Regions from separate parts of the Homo sapiens genome. Here region 1 is linked to region 2. Evidence: fine-mapped expression QTL. Tissue or cell type: whole blood. Region 2 holds a variant in brackets; the other region holds the start of a gene. Each region is shown on its reference strand, or each on the opposite one.

Region 1 (8,336 bases), not on the chromosome of region 2:
GGAGAATCCCTTGAATCTGGGTGGGGGAGGTTGCAGTAAGCCAAGATCACCCCATTGCACTCCAGCCCGGGCAATAAGAGTGAAACTCTGTCCCGCCCCCCACCCCAAACCAAAAAACATATATATATATATATATATATATATATATATATATATATATATGGCAAAGAAACATGTTTTGGGGTAAAATATTTTGACTTTCTTCTTTATCACGTAATTTTATGCCAGAGTATGACTGAAAAGGCAGTCACAATATATAGTGTTAAATAAAACCCAACTGATAAGAATTTATGGTTTGTAGGGCATGACTCCCCAGACCCTTTCGATAGGAATTTGAGCAAGATAAGAAAAAATCAGAGCTTAGTCCTCATTAGGAACTGCCTCTTCTTCTCCTTTAAAAACCCACTTGTGACTTCTGCTAATTGGGAGCATATACTCAGGGCAACTTGAATCTTCGCTTCACAGTCTTCAAACTTGGCCCAAATAAACTCTCTACTTATATCAAGTTTGCCTTAGATTTTTCCCTTTAGGTTGACATTTCCCAGAAGTTTTAATCAGATGAAGAAAGCTCCCAGAAGGTTTATTTCTGCATCTATTGAATCTGAAATGTCTTCGGCTTAAAATAATTGTTATACCAACTCTGGTGTTCTGAATGGGTCCCCACACAGCAAAGAATAGAGCCAGAATGTTGCATTTGTGAAAGGAAAATAAAAACTCAGGACTCCAGTTGACTATGCCAAAAGGAAAAAAAATAAACTGAAAACTGAGTCATGCAAGAAGCTGCCTTTCCTTTTGTTCCTAAGCAGATAGCTACAGACAAAAGGTTAAATATTTACAAAATTAGCCGGGTGTGGTGGCACATGCCTGTAATCCCAGCTACTCAGTAGGCTGAGGCAGGAGAATCACTTGAACCCGGGAGGCAGAGGTTGTGGTGAGCCGAGATTGCGCCATTGCACTCCAGCCTGGTCAACAACAGCGAAAACTCTGTCTCAAAAAAAAAAAAACAAAAAAAACACAAAAGGTTAAATATCTCCACAGGCATATTTACTTTATCTTATGTAAAGTGCCAGACGAACACATAATTGAGTATCTCCCTACCTGCTCCTTTTCTCTTGCGACATGTGGATTACCATACCCTTCTTCTTTCCCTCCAGCTCACTTTTCCCCTTTAAATATTGAAGCCCTCAAAATCATCTTTGGAGAAAGCCACAGACCACAGACTGTTTCTGCGATTCCGTGTTTATTTCTTCCAGCCATGTCCTTAACCTTGGCAAAATAAACCTCTAAATTGATTGAGACCTGTCTCAGACATGTTTTGCTTGACACATCCAAATTCCAGTTCCAGCACTTACTAGCTAGCTGTGGGATCTTGAGCCACTTACTTAATCCTACTTTCCTTCTCCGTAAAATGGGGATAATTATAATACCGACTTCCAAATTTGTTGTGAGGATTAACGTAAGGCAGAGTCCTCAGAAAAGTACCTACAGAGGGTTATTCGGGCCAAGGGCCAAGGTTGAGGACTGCGACCCAGGACACACTTGCAAGTTGTCTTGGGGGAGCACTCTGGACAACAAAAGAGAGGCTCATATTTTCAAAGAAAAAAAGATGAATTAGGAGAGGAAATGAATACAAAAGTTGTTCATCAGGAATTCTCATTGTTTACAGAAATAACACTGGTTATACATTGTTTAGCGCTTGGCTATACATTGTTGAACTATAAGGTGTATGGCATTTAATGGCTACTTGGCATAGCAAGTGGTTTCAAGAGATAATTACTTAGCTCAAAGAAGAGTGAGAGTGACTGTTGCTACATTTTAAATGCCTGTCTGGGCCTGATAATTTAAAGGGGCTCATCTTCCTTAGATAAAAAGGTTTTGTTTTGTTTTGTTTTTCATAGTACATAATCTTAAAAATGCATGCTAATTATTACTGTGAGTACTCTATCTGAGATGATGTCCCCAGAACTGGGGGGAAAAAACACTTGTAAAAAATTATCAAAGGAAAGAACTGACAGGACTTGATAGCTCTGAGGATTCCTCAGAAGCACTCGTCAAACAGCTTAGGGTTTAATTGCTATTCTGCCACTTAACTTCTTTGTGCCTCATCCTATCTGTAAAGGAGGGTAATAATAGTATTTGCAGGGACCAAGGGAAACTTTCCCTTCGCCCTCTGAAATTCTGCTGAAAAATCAACCCACAAAAAACAGATTAATTGAAGAAAAGGCATAGAAATTGTATTAATGTGTCCACGGGGAACCACAGAGTGACTACCCACTTCCCAGACGAGTTCAGAAGCTTAGGTGTCATTCAGGCAAAGGGGGTTGTGGGAGTGAGGGGAAGAGGAATTCTGCTGAGGGAGAAGGAATGGATCAGGGAACAGATTAACTAGCACATTATCATGTGAAGGGGTCTGTTCAGGTGTGATTATATTCTTGGTTTTGTAGGGAGGGGAAGAAAAAAACCGTTGTTCCTTTTGATGGGTCTGGACGCTAGGTAACGGCTTTGGGAGAGAGGGCGCGGGAGTAGGAAGGCCAGACACACCTTAAGGCTTAACTTAGTAAGTCAAACCACCATATTTTGGGTATGGATTTCTGAGCCCCAATATAATAGGTACTTCTTAGGGTTGTTGTGAGAATTGAAGATTATTAATTATAAAGTGCCTGGGTTGGTGCTTGGCACATCATAAACAACTCCATAAATGCTCGCTTTTACTGTCGTGGATACACGGAGGTGGGAGACCCAATTGGGTTCCCGCCCATGTTATTGGCCCCCACGGCTATATGGTCTTTACGGCTTCCTAGTCTCTTCACCATCTCTAAGGTTTGTTTCCTCATCTGAATCACAGGTGAGTGATTCTCAGGGTGACTCAAGAGGGCTGGTGCCAGTGGCAGAGCATGGGGAATCGAGGGAAGGCGCCTTCCTGTCAGAGGCAACACACCCAGTGGGAGGATCCTGCCCGCCCTGCTCTCTCCTACCTCCCCTTCCCGGGCTAAACGCTGGGGTCGGTCTGGCAGCTATTCCGGGAATCTGAGCGCGGATTCTGACAAAGGAGACGTCTTCCACCGACCACATCACATGGAGCTCCAAAGCACGAGCACGGCCTCCCGCGGCTGTGACCTCAAGGCGGAGCCCCTGGTGACCTCAGGGAGAGTCCCCACCCCCGCAGCCCGTGCGCCCGGGGCAGGGCGGGGGCAGGGAGAGGGGGCGGAATCGGGGCGGTCCCGGGAGCGCCCCGCCCCCTCCGCCTCCGCAGCGTTGACAGCCGCCCGCCACCGAGAGATCAGCTGTCAGAGATCAGAGGAAGAGGAAGGGGCGGAGCTGCTTTGCGGCCGGCCGCGGAGCAGTCAGCCGACTACAGAGAAGGGTAATCGGGTGTCCCCGGCGCCGCCCGGGGCCCTGAGGGCTGGCTAGGGTCCAGGCCGGGGGGGACGGGACAGACGAACCAGCCCCGTGTAGGAAGCGCGACAATGCCCCGCTACGGAGCGTCACTCCGCCAGAGCTGCCCCAGGTCCGGCCGGGAGCAGGGACAAGACGGGACCGCCGGAGCCCCCGGACTCCTTTGGATGGGCCTGGTGCTGGCGCTGGCGCTGGCGCTGGCGCTGGCGCTGGCTCTGTCTGACTCTCGGGTTCTCTGGGCTCCGGCAGAGGCTCACCCTCTTTCTCCCCAAGGCCATCCTGCCAGGTTACATCGCATAGTGCCCCGGCTCCGAGATGTCTTTGGGTGGGGGAACCTCACCTGCCCAATCTGCAAAGGTCTATTCACCGCCATCAACCTCGGGCTGAAGGTGAGCACTGAAGGGGCTGCAGTGGAGGAGGCCGAAAGGAGTGCTGGGGCTGGGGGCTGGGGCTGATGCTGGTGCGCTGGGCTCAGAATGCATCCCTGATGGAGAGGGTGGCATCTACAATCCATCACTGAGTTTGCTCCCCTTTGGGGACACCCATGGCTACATGCCACCATCACCCCATTGTGACCTTTGTGAAGTAAGAAAATAATGCAGACAGTGCCTGAGGAAGTCAGCTTGCCAAGCAAAGGCCTCATGCCACAGGCCGCTGAGCTAAAGAAGAAGCGATGGCCTGGTGCTGCCTGAGTTACAGGGCAATATCTGGAAGGCAAAGGTGTGCACTGAGCTTGGTGCACTGAGTCCTGCCCAGCCCCAGTTTGGAAATGGAGGCCCAAGGGGTGGTGGCCAGGGGTTGGCCTGGTTCCTCTGCTCTGCCTCTGATTTCTCACCATGCGCTCCTCCCACTGCAGAAGGAACCCAATGTGGCTCGCGTGGGCTCCGTGGCCATCAAGCTGTGCAATCTGCTGAAGATAGCACCACCTGCCGTGTGCCAATCCATTGTCCACCTCTTTGAGGATGACATGGTGGAGGTGTGGAGACGCTCAGTGCTGAGCCCATCTGAGGCCTGTGGCCTGCTCCTGGGCTCCACCTGTGGGCACTGGGACATTTTCTCATCTTGGAACATCTCTTTGCCTACTGTGCCGAAGCCGCCCCCCAAACCCCCTAGCCCCCCAGCCCCAGGTGCCCCTGTCAGCCGCATCCTCTTCCTCACTGACCTGCACTGGGATCATGACTACCTGGAGGGCACGGACCCTGACTGTGCAGACCCACTGTGCTGCCGCCGGGGTTCTGGCCTGCCGCCCGCATCCCGGCCAGGTGCCGGATACTGGGGCGAATACAGCAAGTGTGACCTGCCCCTGAGGACCCTGGAGAGCCTGTTGAGTGGGCTGGGCCCAGCCGGCCCTTTTGATATGGTGTACTGGACAGGAGACATCCCCGCACATGATGTCTGGCACCAGACTCGTCAGGACCAACTGCGGGCCCTGACCACCGTCACAGCACTTGTGAGGAAGTTCCTGGGGCCAGTGCCAGTGTACCCTGCTGTGGGTAACCATGAAAGCACACCTGTCAATAGCTTCCCTCCCCCCTTCATTGAGGGCAACCACTCCTCCCGCTGGCTCTATGAAGCGATGGCCAAGGCTTGGGAGCCCTGGCTGCCTGCCGAAGCCCTGCGCACCCTCAGGTACTTATCGTCCGTGGAAACCCAGGAAGGGAAAAGAAAGGTGAATGAAAGTGAAGGGAGAAGGGAACCTGGGGCATTGTCTCTGATTGCTCTAGCATGAGTCCTTAGTGCTCTTCATTTGGCTCCCCTAATCTGACTCCTCCTTCCCTTTCTACTGTTTTGCCGCACCAGGCTTTTTTTTTTTTTTTTTTTTTAGTTTAGTTTTTGTAGAGACAAGATCTTGCTATGTTGCCCAGGCTGGTCTCAAACACCTAACCTCAAGCAATCCTCCCGCCTCGGCCTCCCAAAATGCTGGGACCACAGGCATCAGCTACTGCTCCTGGCCCTCCCTTTTTTTTTTTTTTTTTTTTTTTTTTTTTGAGATGGAATCTTGCTCTGTTGCCCAGGCTGGAGTGCAGTGGCACCATCTCAGCTCACTACAGCCTCCACCTCCTGGGTTCAAGCAATTCTGCCTCAGCCTCCCAAGTACCTGGGACTACAGGTGCACGCCACCACACCCAGCTAATTTTTGTATTTTTAGTAGAGATGGGGTTTCACCATGTTGGCCAAGATGGTCTTGATCTCCTGACCTCATGATCTGCCCACCTCGGCCTCCCAAAGTGCTGGGATTACAGGCATGAACCACTGCACCCAGCTTTCCAGCCCTCCCTTTCTACTCTTATCTCCAGCCACCCTCCTTCAAAGGTCTGGCAGCATAACCTCTCTATGCCCCAGCTGTGTCTTTGCTCATGTTGGCCCTCTGGAAATGATTTCCCCCTTTTTTTTAAGTGCTCCAGTTTTTCCCACCTTATCCATCCCATGTCATCTTCCCTCTGTGTGGTCCTTGCTTCCCATTCTAGCTAACTCTTATCCCTCCCCCATACTCCTGGAGCCCTCTGCCCTCAGAGTCTTTTGTGTCACACAGACCCAATAATTAGAACTGTTTGGTCTCTGGCTAGACTGTGAGCTCCTTGCAGGTGGGGAAGATGTCATGTATGCTTTTACCCTCCACCCAAATGCCCAGCACAGGAGGACCAGGATTGGAACAAGTGTTGACCTCTCATGTTTACTTTGTTTCAGAATTGGGGGGTTCTATGCTCTTTCCCCATACCCCGGTCTCCGCCTCATCTCTCTCAATATGAATTTTTGTTCCCGTGAGAACTTCTGGCTCTTGATCAACTCCACGGATCCCGCAGGACAGCTCCAGTGGCTGGTGGGGGAGCTTCAGGCTGCTGAGGATCGAGGAGACAAAGTGAGGGCCAGTAGTGGGAACACGGTGGTGCTGGGGGACAAGCAGGCTCCTGTTGAGCTGGAGCACCTCTGGGCACAGAAGTTTTATTTTCCTGGCATTCCCAACAAGTGTTCCCTGGGGATTCAGCTCATGGTCACTGTTGAAAGCCTTCATTCAGTCCCCCTTTCTCTAGCCAGGGCTGCCTGGACCCCTGGATGCCCTGATTACCATCCTTAATTCTCCCTACTAGGTGCATATAATTGGCCACATTCCCCCAGGGCACTGTCTGAAGAGCTGGAGCTGGAATTATTACCGAATTGTAGCCAGGTAGGACGGAGATGAGGGTGGGAATAGGGACAGGGTGAGTGTCTGAAGGCTGAAAATTCCCTTGAGCATCTCACCATCCCTGTTGTCCCATGGAGTGGGGAGGCTCCTCACTAGAACAGGTTGGAGAAAGAGGGCATCCTATCTCCCCAGATGTCTTCCTACCCCTCCCTAGAATCTTCTGAATGTAGTACCTTCTGGCCAGGTATGAGAACACCCTGGCTGCTCAGTTCTTTGGCCACACTCATGTGGATGAATTTGAGGTCTTCTATGATGAAGAGACTCTGAGCCGGCCGCTGGCTGTAGCCTTCCTGGCACCCAGTGCAACTACCTACATCGGCCTTAATCCTGGTGAGTGAGGCAGAAGGGAGCCTCCCTTATCCTGGAGTTGGTGGGATAGGGGAAGGAGGTTGGAGCCAGAGCCTGCAAAGCATGGGCAGGATGTGTGGCCCCTCCCTGGAGTTACCCTTGCTCCTTGCCCCTCCAGTCAGCCCCACATCCTTGCAGGTTACCGTGTGTACCAAATAGATGGAAACTACTCCGGGAGCTCTCACGTGGTCCTGGACCATGAGACCTACATCCTGAATCTGACCCAGGCAAACATACCGGGAGCCATACCGCACTGGCAGCTTCTCTACAGGGCTCGAGAAACCTATGGGCTGCCCAACACACTGCCTACCGCCTGGCACAACCTGGTATATCGCATGCGGGGCGACATGCAACTTTTCCAGACCTTCTGGTTTCTCTACCATAAGGGCCACCCACCCTCGGAGCCCTGTGGCACGCCCTGCCGTCTGGCTACTCTTTGTGCCCAGCTCTCTGCCCGTGCTGACAGCCCTGCTCTGTGCCGCCACCTGATGCCAGATGGGAGCCTCCCAGAGGCCCAGAGCCTGTGGCCAAGGCCACTGTTTTGCTAGGGCCCCAGGGCCCACATTTGGGAAAGTTCTTGATGTAGGAAAGGGTGAAAAAGCCCAAATGCTGCTGTGGTTCAACCAGGCAAGATCATCCGGTGAAAGAACCAGTCCCTGGGCCCCAAGGATGCCGGGGAAACAGGACCTTCTCCTTTCCTGGAGCTGGTTTAGCTGGATATGGGAGGGGGTTTGGCTGCCTGTGCCCAGGAGCTAGACTGCCTTGAGGCTGCTGTCCTTTCACAGCCATGGAGTAGAGGCCTAAGTTGACACTGCCCTGGGCAGACAAGACAGGAGCTGTCGCCCCAGGCCTGTGCTGCCCAGCCAGGAACCCTGTACTGCTGCTGCGACCTGATGCTGCCAGTCTGTTAAAATAAAGATAAGAGACTTGGACTCCAGACCCCTGTGTGACTGTCCCAATTTCTTCTTTCCAGGCAAGCAGGGCAAGGAGATCTTTGGAGCAAGATCATAACTGAGGCACAGGCTAATGGGTTGATGGTGTGGTACAGGCATAAGAAGGCACACAGCAGTGCAGACAGACTTTATTAGTGATATCAATACAGCAGAGGTGCCCATGGAGCAGGGGGAAGGGACCCATGCCTGGACCAGTCCCTTCCTCCTTCTGCCCCTGCTGGGTCCAGGAGGATGAGGCCTGGCCTGGACCAGTTCCTCCTGTTCCACCTGAAACACATGGGGATGGAGAACCAGGGCTGGCCTTGCTTCCTGCTCCTCTTGTTACCACTCCAGTGTTATCACTTCCTTGAAGGGATTAGATCTCTCCCTCCCCAGCTCCTAGGCAGGGAACCGTAGCTACTGGGGAGGGGCATATTTGGGAGGCCTGAGGCCTAGGAATAGCCTCTAGACCCCTC
Region 2 (8,336 bases):
ATTATGACCAAGACACTTAATAATAATTTGGAATGGAAGAGTGAAGACAAAAAATTAGTTGAGAATATTTAATGCTTTCTTTTTTTAAGAAATAGTCCTACTTATTAGGCTTTCTGCTGTGGTGGTGAAAGCAGAGATGGAGGTGTATACCTGGAAGAGATTTCATTTTTCTAGATAATTATAGAAGCTAAATCATGAGCTCATCACTCTAGTTTTTTGTATGTTTGAAAATTTTCATAATTCTTAAAAATTATTTTGTACAAAATCATCATGTAAATTTTGAAATACCTCTGAGATATCCAAGAGGAAACATCTCATAGAAGCACTATGTATATTCACTAATGTTTCACGGTGATACAATGATGAGAGACTTACATTTGTAAATTATATTTACTGGAATGTTTTCGATCACCTCGGGAGGTTGTGTTGGGAGAAGAGAGACAAGTAAAGCAAGACTGAATTCTGAGGAATACTGTACAGACATTCTGCAAAGAAGACTCTGGGTTAAAACAGCTGGTGAGGTCAGAGGAAACAGATATACGTGTGTTTATGAATAAAGACAGGAGAAGAAGGTGCTTTAAAAAGAAAGCACATTTCAGCAGTGTTGACTTTTGCAATGAGGTTATGATGAAGCTGAAAAATACGCACTGAGTCAGTCACCATCGTTGTCTTGGGGACTCCATGTTAAAAAAATTCTTTTGGTCAGGGTAGTAACACTCCCTTTGCCTGGCTTAGAATTTAGTTCATCGCTTCTTTACTGTTCCAAATGTCCACATTTGCAGATGAATATGAGGTTATAGCAATTCTTCCATAGTAAGATAAGACCAATATCATTGCTCTCTTCTATAGCTACATAAAGTGTAGGTACCAGGGCCCTAACTTGAGTATAAGTTGTGAAGAATATGAAAACTGAGGTCCACATAGATAAACCCGAATGGCCTATGGGAAAAGCCCATGAAACCTCCTGGCACAGAAAAGTGAGGTTTCCAGGTTAAGTTCCAGATTTTTGTTGAAAATAATGACAATTTTTATTGTCTTTGTTGAAGATAAGTCCAGTAGAGGAAATTCTACTCAGGCTGTCTCATAGTAAGTGATTCTAGCACAGAAAATAGCACAGTGCCTAGCTCACAGAATATGATCAATAAAAAATATGTAGTGACTGATGCTTGCTGGTAATTAATCCTCAGTTGCAATTAAAACACACAACAACTTCATCAAGTATTTACCCATCGTAATTTTTTGGGCCTGGAAATGGAGACTTTTGAGAGGCTAATGACACATCCAACATCTCATAGTTACTAGCAGATTTCATGTTCTAAACAAATTGTTCTGACCTGTCAGGCAACAAGGAGGTAGTAAATTAGCCTTAAGATCATTATGTTACTTGAGTGTCATACATGTACTGGTATATTTCTCATTGTATTGAAGTTTGTTTCTTTTTTTTCTTCATCTCCAAATGTCCTCTGATTGCTATTGTTTCCGTAGCTGAGTCACGCCTGAGACATCTCACTGACTTTCTTTCCTAACTACTTGATAGTCTAATGAAAGGAAAGAGAGGGAGGTGAAGAAATAGAATAAGATAAATTAGTAACTTCTGGACAATTCTGGAAAACTGAAACTATAGGATTAATGTTCAGAGCGAAGTACAATAAATGGACCATAAGTCAAATATTTCATAATAATTCTGTAGAAAGTGACATTTGAAAACTCAAATTGTACAAAACCAAATCTTTCCTTCATGATGGCAAAGGGATGGGTCACACCTTAAATTTCTTCCCAGTCTCCATGCTATAGCCACACTCTATGGGGAAAAATAGCCGGGGGGGGCGGGGGTCATTCCATTACTTGAAATGAAAGACACCATTCTAAAGAAATTTCAAATTTCTTTACATTATTAATACATTATTAACCCTATACATGTTTAGCAATATCTTTCTCAAAGTTAGTAAAAGGAATGCACCATTATTTTGTGAGAGGGGCTGTGGAAAACAGTTCTTGCTTATTGGACATATCTGATGGGGAGAGGTCAGAGGTGTTAATGTAACCAGAGCATGTGCTTCTCTTATACAGTGGGATCCACGAGGGGGATAGATGACTGGTTGTCTGGTGAATGCAGTGTTACTTTTATTAGGCCATAAAAAGGAAAGTTTCAAGGCCAACTAATTGTATTGTTTGTCATAGCAGTGTCCCTGTAAAAGGAGCATATTTTCCAACCTCGGCCTGGGAAGATGCAACATGAACTGTCACTAAAATTAAGGAAACATCTCTAAATCAAACTAATTTAGACTAAATTTAGACTACATTTAGTCATCAGGTAGTTTATGGTGACCCCATTCTCTGCATGTGCTGAAAAACTATGGCTGTCCATCTCTCATAGCCTGGGCAGGTTTGCACAAAATGTATTTGTGCTAGAAATCCAGAAAAACAAACTACCACACACCAGCATAAAAATTGAAGCTCAGAAAAGTGAATTGAAGTCCTCAGAGCATCAGTTTTCTTACTGGTTGTATCCATTTTCTGGACTTGCCATAAAAGTTGCCACAAACTTGGTGGCTTAAAATCAGAGGAATGTGTCGTCTTAATGGTTTTTGAGGCCAGAAGTCCAAAATCAAAGTGTCATCAGAGTCACACTCTCTCCGAAGGCTCTAGGGGAGAATCCTTCCTTGCTCCTCTTGGCTTTGGGTGGCTCCTGAGAGTCCTCAGCTGTGACAGCCTCACTCCAGTCTATGCCTCCATTTTCACGTGTCCCTCTTTCCTGTGTCTGTGTGTCCACTCCTATTCTTATAAGGACTCCATTTATTAAATTTAGGGGCCACCCTAAATCTAGAGTGATTTCATTTCAAGATATTTAACTAATTAAATTTGCAAAGACCCTATTTCCAAATAAGGTCAGGTTCTCAGGTTCTGAGTGAACATGTATTTTGGGACTATTCAATCCACTACACCCGTAGATTGAGCTGGCAGTTCTTAACTTATAAGACTTATTGTGACTGAATAACTTTTCTGTAAAGTATTTGGTAGCTAATAGGTGATCAACAAATTCTTTGTTTTTAAGAATACCACTATAGTTATCTTTAATCCTGACCATGACTGTCTGAATATTCTCATTTTCTTAAATATATTAGTATGTTCAATTCTTACACTGGTCTAGGCATTCATTATGGAAGCAACCTGCTATATGTAAATAAGCATGATTTTAATCCTATCTAGTAGGCTGTGTGTTATAAATGATCCCTAGAAACATAGACATTCCGTTGTGGGAGCACGGAAAAGGGAGTGATGATTTCTGAGAAGATATGACTTGTAACTTTCCAATAACACTTTTCTAGAAGGGTCTCATGTTAAAATAAATAAATGTCAAACTAAACTAAGAGACAGCACTATAATGTACTAATTGGCTCCCAGATTAGGGCTCTTAACCATCAGGCTATTCTGCCTCCCAAATTAAAATTGGTAGCGGGACATGAATTTATTGTTTGAAATGAGCACAGGTTAAGTAAAATGAGAACTATGGAAAAACAATGACAGGAAGAACGGGAGAATTATACTTTGCTAACAGTAATAGTAAATAGTGAACATTTATTGTAAATAAGTTTAACAATACGCATTTAAGACAAATTTAAGAGCTTATATTTTTTGACCAGTAATTCCTTATTTAAGAATCTAACTTTGGAAATCATACAGGATTTGTAGAACCTTTTTACAGAAAGATACTCATTCTGGAAATATTTTTAACACTGAGATTTGGAAACAATATAATGCCCAACCTCAAAGGATTAATAAATTAAATTGTGATATTATCCTCAATTGAATACTATGTGGTCATTATAATTCATGTTTCAAAAGAGTATAATAAAATAGGAGAGTCCTGGGCTTTTACTCTGAGTGATGTTGGAAGCCATTGAAGGTGGAGGAGAAAGAAATGAGAAGAACGTTTCCAAACAATGAAGATGTCCAGCCAGTCATTGACAAAAATGTTCTGTTAATCATGGTGGATGGGAAGTAGGACTAGATTGCAGCTCTGTATAGATCAGTGTGCAGAGGCTCGCATTGTGAATTTTAGCTCCAGGTTGACTGCAAGAACAAGCCAGCAATCCCGAGAGTACCCACAGACTCTCTGAAGGAAGCGAACTGTTTCTGCAGTACCCAAGAGACACCACAAATACTGTCAGTGCCCCGACGCTGGAAGTGGTAAAGGGAGACCCCCCTCTCTGGAACACACAGCCCCACTGGAGAAACTGAAGGTCTCTTTGTGGGAGAAGTTTCCTACCTTCTCTGGAGTTGAATCCATTTAGAGAGCTGAGCAAAATACAGGGTTTGAGGAAGCAGTAGAAAGGCCCTGGGAGCTCACTGGGTGCCCAAACAGGCCATTCCTGCTTGGCACCACAGGGATCCATTGTGAGGGTGGCCAGAGGAGCAGGTGTTGAAACTCCACAGGAAGAAAGAAATCTATAGTTGAACTTTGTAACAATTTGAACAGGGCGAGAAGCCTCCTGGCCAGAACTCATGGGAGGGCACAAATCTGTTGTGCAGACTCCACAGGCAGGGGAAGAACCAAGCCCTTTTTTTCCATAGTTGAGAGGCAGGTAGCCTGAGGCAAGTTTTCAAGCCCATCTTGCCCACCACCTGGAAACAGGCTCCATGAGAACTGCTCTTTGGTTTGCATGGGAGCTGGGTGAGGCCTATGACTGCCGGCTTTCCCCCACTTCCCTGACAACCTGCATGACTCAGCAGAGGCAGCATAATCCTCCTATGTACACAACTCCATTAACCTGGGCATCTCACCCCTATCCCCCACAACAGCCACAGAAAGACCCACACAAGGAGAGTCAGAGCTCAGACACACCTAGCCCCACCCCCAACTAATGGCCCCTCCCTATCCACCGTGGTAACCGAAGACAAAGGGCATATAACCTTGGGAGTTCTAGGACCCCCAACCCCCACCACTGGTCCCTATACATACTACTACAGCTGATACTCCCTGGAGCTGATTCCTCCTGGCAGGAGGCCAACCATCACAAAACTAGAGCATTAAAGCTAAGAACCCTCACGGAGTCCATTGCACTCCCCACCACCTCCACTGGAACAGGAACTGGTATCCATGGCTGAGAGACCA[A/G]TAGACGGTTCACATCACAGTACTCCGTGCAGACAACCCCCAGTGCCAGCCCGGAGCTGAGTAGAGTCACTAGGTGGCTAGACCCAGAAAAGAGACAACAAACACTGCAATTTAGCTCACAGGAAGCCACATCTATAGGAAAAAGGGGAGAGTACTACAACAAGTAAACACACCCATGGGACAAAAGAATCTGAACAACAGCCTTCAGCCCTAGAACTTCCCTCTGATAGAGCCTACCCAAGTGAGAAGGAACCAGAAAACCAACCCTGGTAATATGAGAAAACATACCTCTTTAACAGCCCCCAAAATCACCCTAATTCACCAGCAATGGAGACAAACCAAGAAGAAATCCCTGATTAACCTGAAAAAGAATTTAGGAGGTTAGTTATTAAGCTAATCAGGGAGGCACCAGAGAAGCGCAAAGCTCAATGCAAGAGAATCCAAAAAATGATATAAAAGTGAAGGGAAAAATATTCAAGGAAATAGATAGCTTAAAGCAAAAACAATAAAAAATTCAGGACACTCTGAACACACTTTCAGAAATGCAAAATGCTCTGGAAAATCTCAGCAATATAATTGAACAAGTAGAAGAAAGAAATTCATAGCTCAAAAAGAAGGTCTTCAAATTAACCCAATCCAAGAAAGACAAAGAAAAAATAATAAGAAAATATGAAAAAAGCCTCCAAGAAGTCTGGGATTATGTTAAATGACCAAAACTAAGAATAATTGGTGTTCCTGAGGAAGAAGGTAAGACTAAGGAAAGAATCTTAAGAGCTGTGAGGCAGGAGCACCAGGTAACCTATAAAGGAAAACCTATCAGATTAGCAGCAGATTTTTCAACAGAAACCCTGCAAGCTAGAAGGGATTGGGGCCCTATCTTCAGCCTCCTCAAACAAAACACTATTCAGCCAAGAATTTTGTATCCAATGAAACTATACATCACATATGAAGGAAAGATACAGTCTTTTTCAGACTAACAAATGCTGAGAGAATTCACCATTACCAAGCCACCACTACAATAACTGCTAAAAGGAACCCTAAATCTTGAAACAAATCCTGGAAACACTCAAAACAGAATATTTTTAAGGAATAAATCACACAGGATCTATTACAAAAATACTAGCTAAAAAGCAAAAAAAAAAAAACCAAAATACACAGGAAACAAAGAGTATGATGAATGCAATAGTACCTCGCATTTCAATACTAACATTGAATGTATATGGCATAAATGCTCCACTTAGATATATAACCGCAGAATGGAAAAGAACTTACCAACCAATCATCTGCTGCCCTCAGGAGACTCACCTAACACGTAAGGATTCACATAAACCTAAGTACAGGGGTGGAAAGAGGCATTTCATGCAAATGGACACCAAAAGCTAGCAGGGGTAGCTATTCTTATATCAGACAAATCAAACTTTAAAGCAACAGCAGTTAAAAGAGACAAAGAAGGACATTAAAGGCCTTGTCCAAAAGGAAAATATCACAATCCTAAACATATATGCACCTAACACTGGAGCTTTCAAATTTATAAAACAATTACTAATAGACCTAAGAAATGAGATAGACAGCAACATAGACACCAATAGTGGAGGATTTCAATACTCCACTGACAACACTAGACAATTCATCAAGACAGAAGGCCAAAAAAGAAACAATGGATTTACACTATGCCATGGAACAAATGGACTTAACAGATATGTACAGAACATTTCATCCAACAACTGCAGAATACACATTCTATTCAATAGCACATGGAACTTTCTCCAAGATTCACCATATGATAGGCCATAAAACAAGCCTCAATAAATGTAAGAAAATTGAAATTATATCAAGCACCCTTTCAGACTACAGTGGAATAAAACCGGGAATCAACTCTAAAAGGAATCTTCAAAACCATACAAATACATGGAAATTAAATAACCTGCTCCTGAATGAGCACTGAGTCAAAAACAAAATCAAGATGGAAATTTAAAAATTCTTCAACGTGAATGGCAATAATGACACAACCTATCAAAACCTCTGGGATACAGAAAAGGCAGTGCTAAGAGGAAAGTTTATAACCGTAAATGCCTACATCAAAAGGTCTATAAGAGGGCCAGGTTCGGTGGCTCATGCCTGTGATTGCAGCACTTTGGGAGGCCGAGGTGGGTGGATCACCTGAGGTCAGGAGTTCAAGACGAGCCTGACCAATATTGAGAAACTCCGTCTCTACTAAATATACAAAAAATTAGCCAGGCCTGGTGGCACATGCCTGTAATCCCAGCTACTCGGGAGGCTGAAGCAGGAGAATCTCTTGAACCCAGGAGGCGGAAGTTGAGGTGAGCTGAGATTGCGCCATTGTACTCCAGCCTGGGCAACAAGATTAAAAAAAAAAAAAAAAGTCTGAAAGAGAACAAACACACAATCTAAGGTCACACCACAAGGAATTAGAGAAATAATAACAAATCAAACCCAAACCCAGCAGAAGAAAGGAAATAACCAGGATCAGAGCAGAACTAAATGAAATGGACACACACACACAAATATAGAAGGTAAATGAAACAAAATGCTGGTTCTTTGAAAAGATAAATAAAACTGATAGACCATTAGCAAGATTAACCAATAAACGAAGGCAGAAAGTCCAAATAACCTCAATAAGAAACCAAACAGGAGACATTACAACTGACGTCACTGAAATACAGGATATCATTCAAGGCTACTATGAACACCTTTATGCATATAAACTAGAAAACCTAGAAGAGATGGATAAATTTCTGGAAAAATACAACCTTCCTAGCTTAAATCGGGAAGAATTAGATACCCTTAACAGACCAATAACAAGCAGCGAGATTGAAATAGTAATTTAAAAAATACAAACAACAACAACAAAAAAAGTCCAGGACCAGACGGATTCCCAGCAGAATTCTACCAGATATTCAAAGAAGAATTGGTACCAATCCTTTGACACTACTTTACAAAATACAAAAAGAAGGAACCCTCCCTAATTCTTTCTATGAAGCTAGCATCACCCTAATACCAAAACCAGGAAAGGACGTAATCAAAAAAGAAAACTACAGACCAATATTCTTGATGAACCTACATGCTAAAATCCTTAACATTATGCTAGCTAACTGAATCCAACAACATATCAAAAAGATAATTCACCATGATCAAGTGGGTTTTATACCAGGGATGCAGGGATGGTTTAACATATGCAAGTCAATAAATGTGATGCACC

The links. PIP is the estimated chance that this variant, and not a neighbour inherited with it, causes the effect. A credible set is the group of variants that fine-mapping cannot tell apart.
Region 1: SMPD1 starts here. The variant in region 2 is the best candidate, but not a certain one, in a credible set for the expression of SMPD1 in whole blood (TOPMed, PIP 0.69).

What each region holds. Positions count from the first base shown.
Region 1 is chr11:6,387,132-6,395,467 of GRCh38, forward strand. SMPD1 (sphingomyelin phosphodiesterase 1) reads left to right here and starts at 3,343. Exons shown (of 6, transcript NM_000543.5): 1 at 3,343-3,785; 2 at 4,253-5,025; 3 at 6,085-6,256; 4 at 6,486-6,562; 5 at 6,765-6,910; 6 at 7,067-7,865. The coding sequence starts at 3,468. The coding sequence ends at 7,476. It overlaps APBB1 (amyloid beta precursor protein binding family B member 1), which reads right to left. Exons shown (of 15, transcript NM_001164.5): 15 at 7,994-8,336. It overlaps LOC124902624 (a long non-coding RNA gene), which reads right to left and starts at 3,225. Exons shown (of 2, transcript XR_007062573.1): 1 at 2,976-3,225. RefSeq lists a silencer at 3,060-3,559.
Region 2 is chr2:122,804,049-122,812,384 of GRCh38, forward strand. LOC105373594 (a long non-coding RNA gene) reads right to left here and starts at 4,845. Exons shown (of 4, transcript XR_923289.3): 1 at 4,271-4,845; 2 at 649-1,538. The variant A/G (reference allele first, on the strand shown) is at 5,117.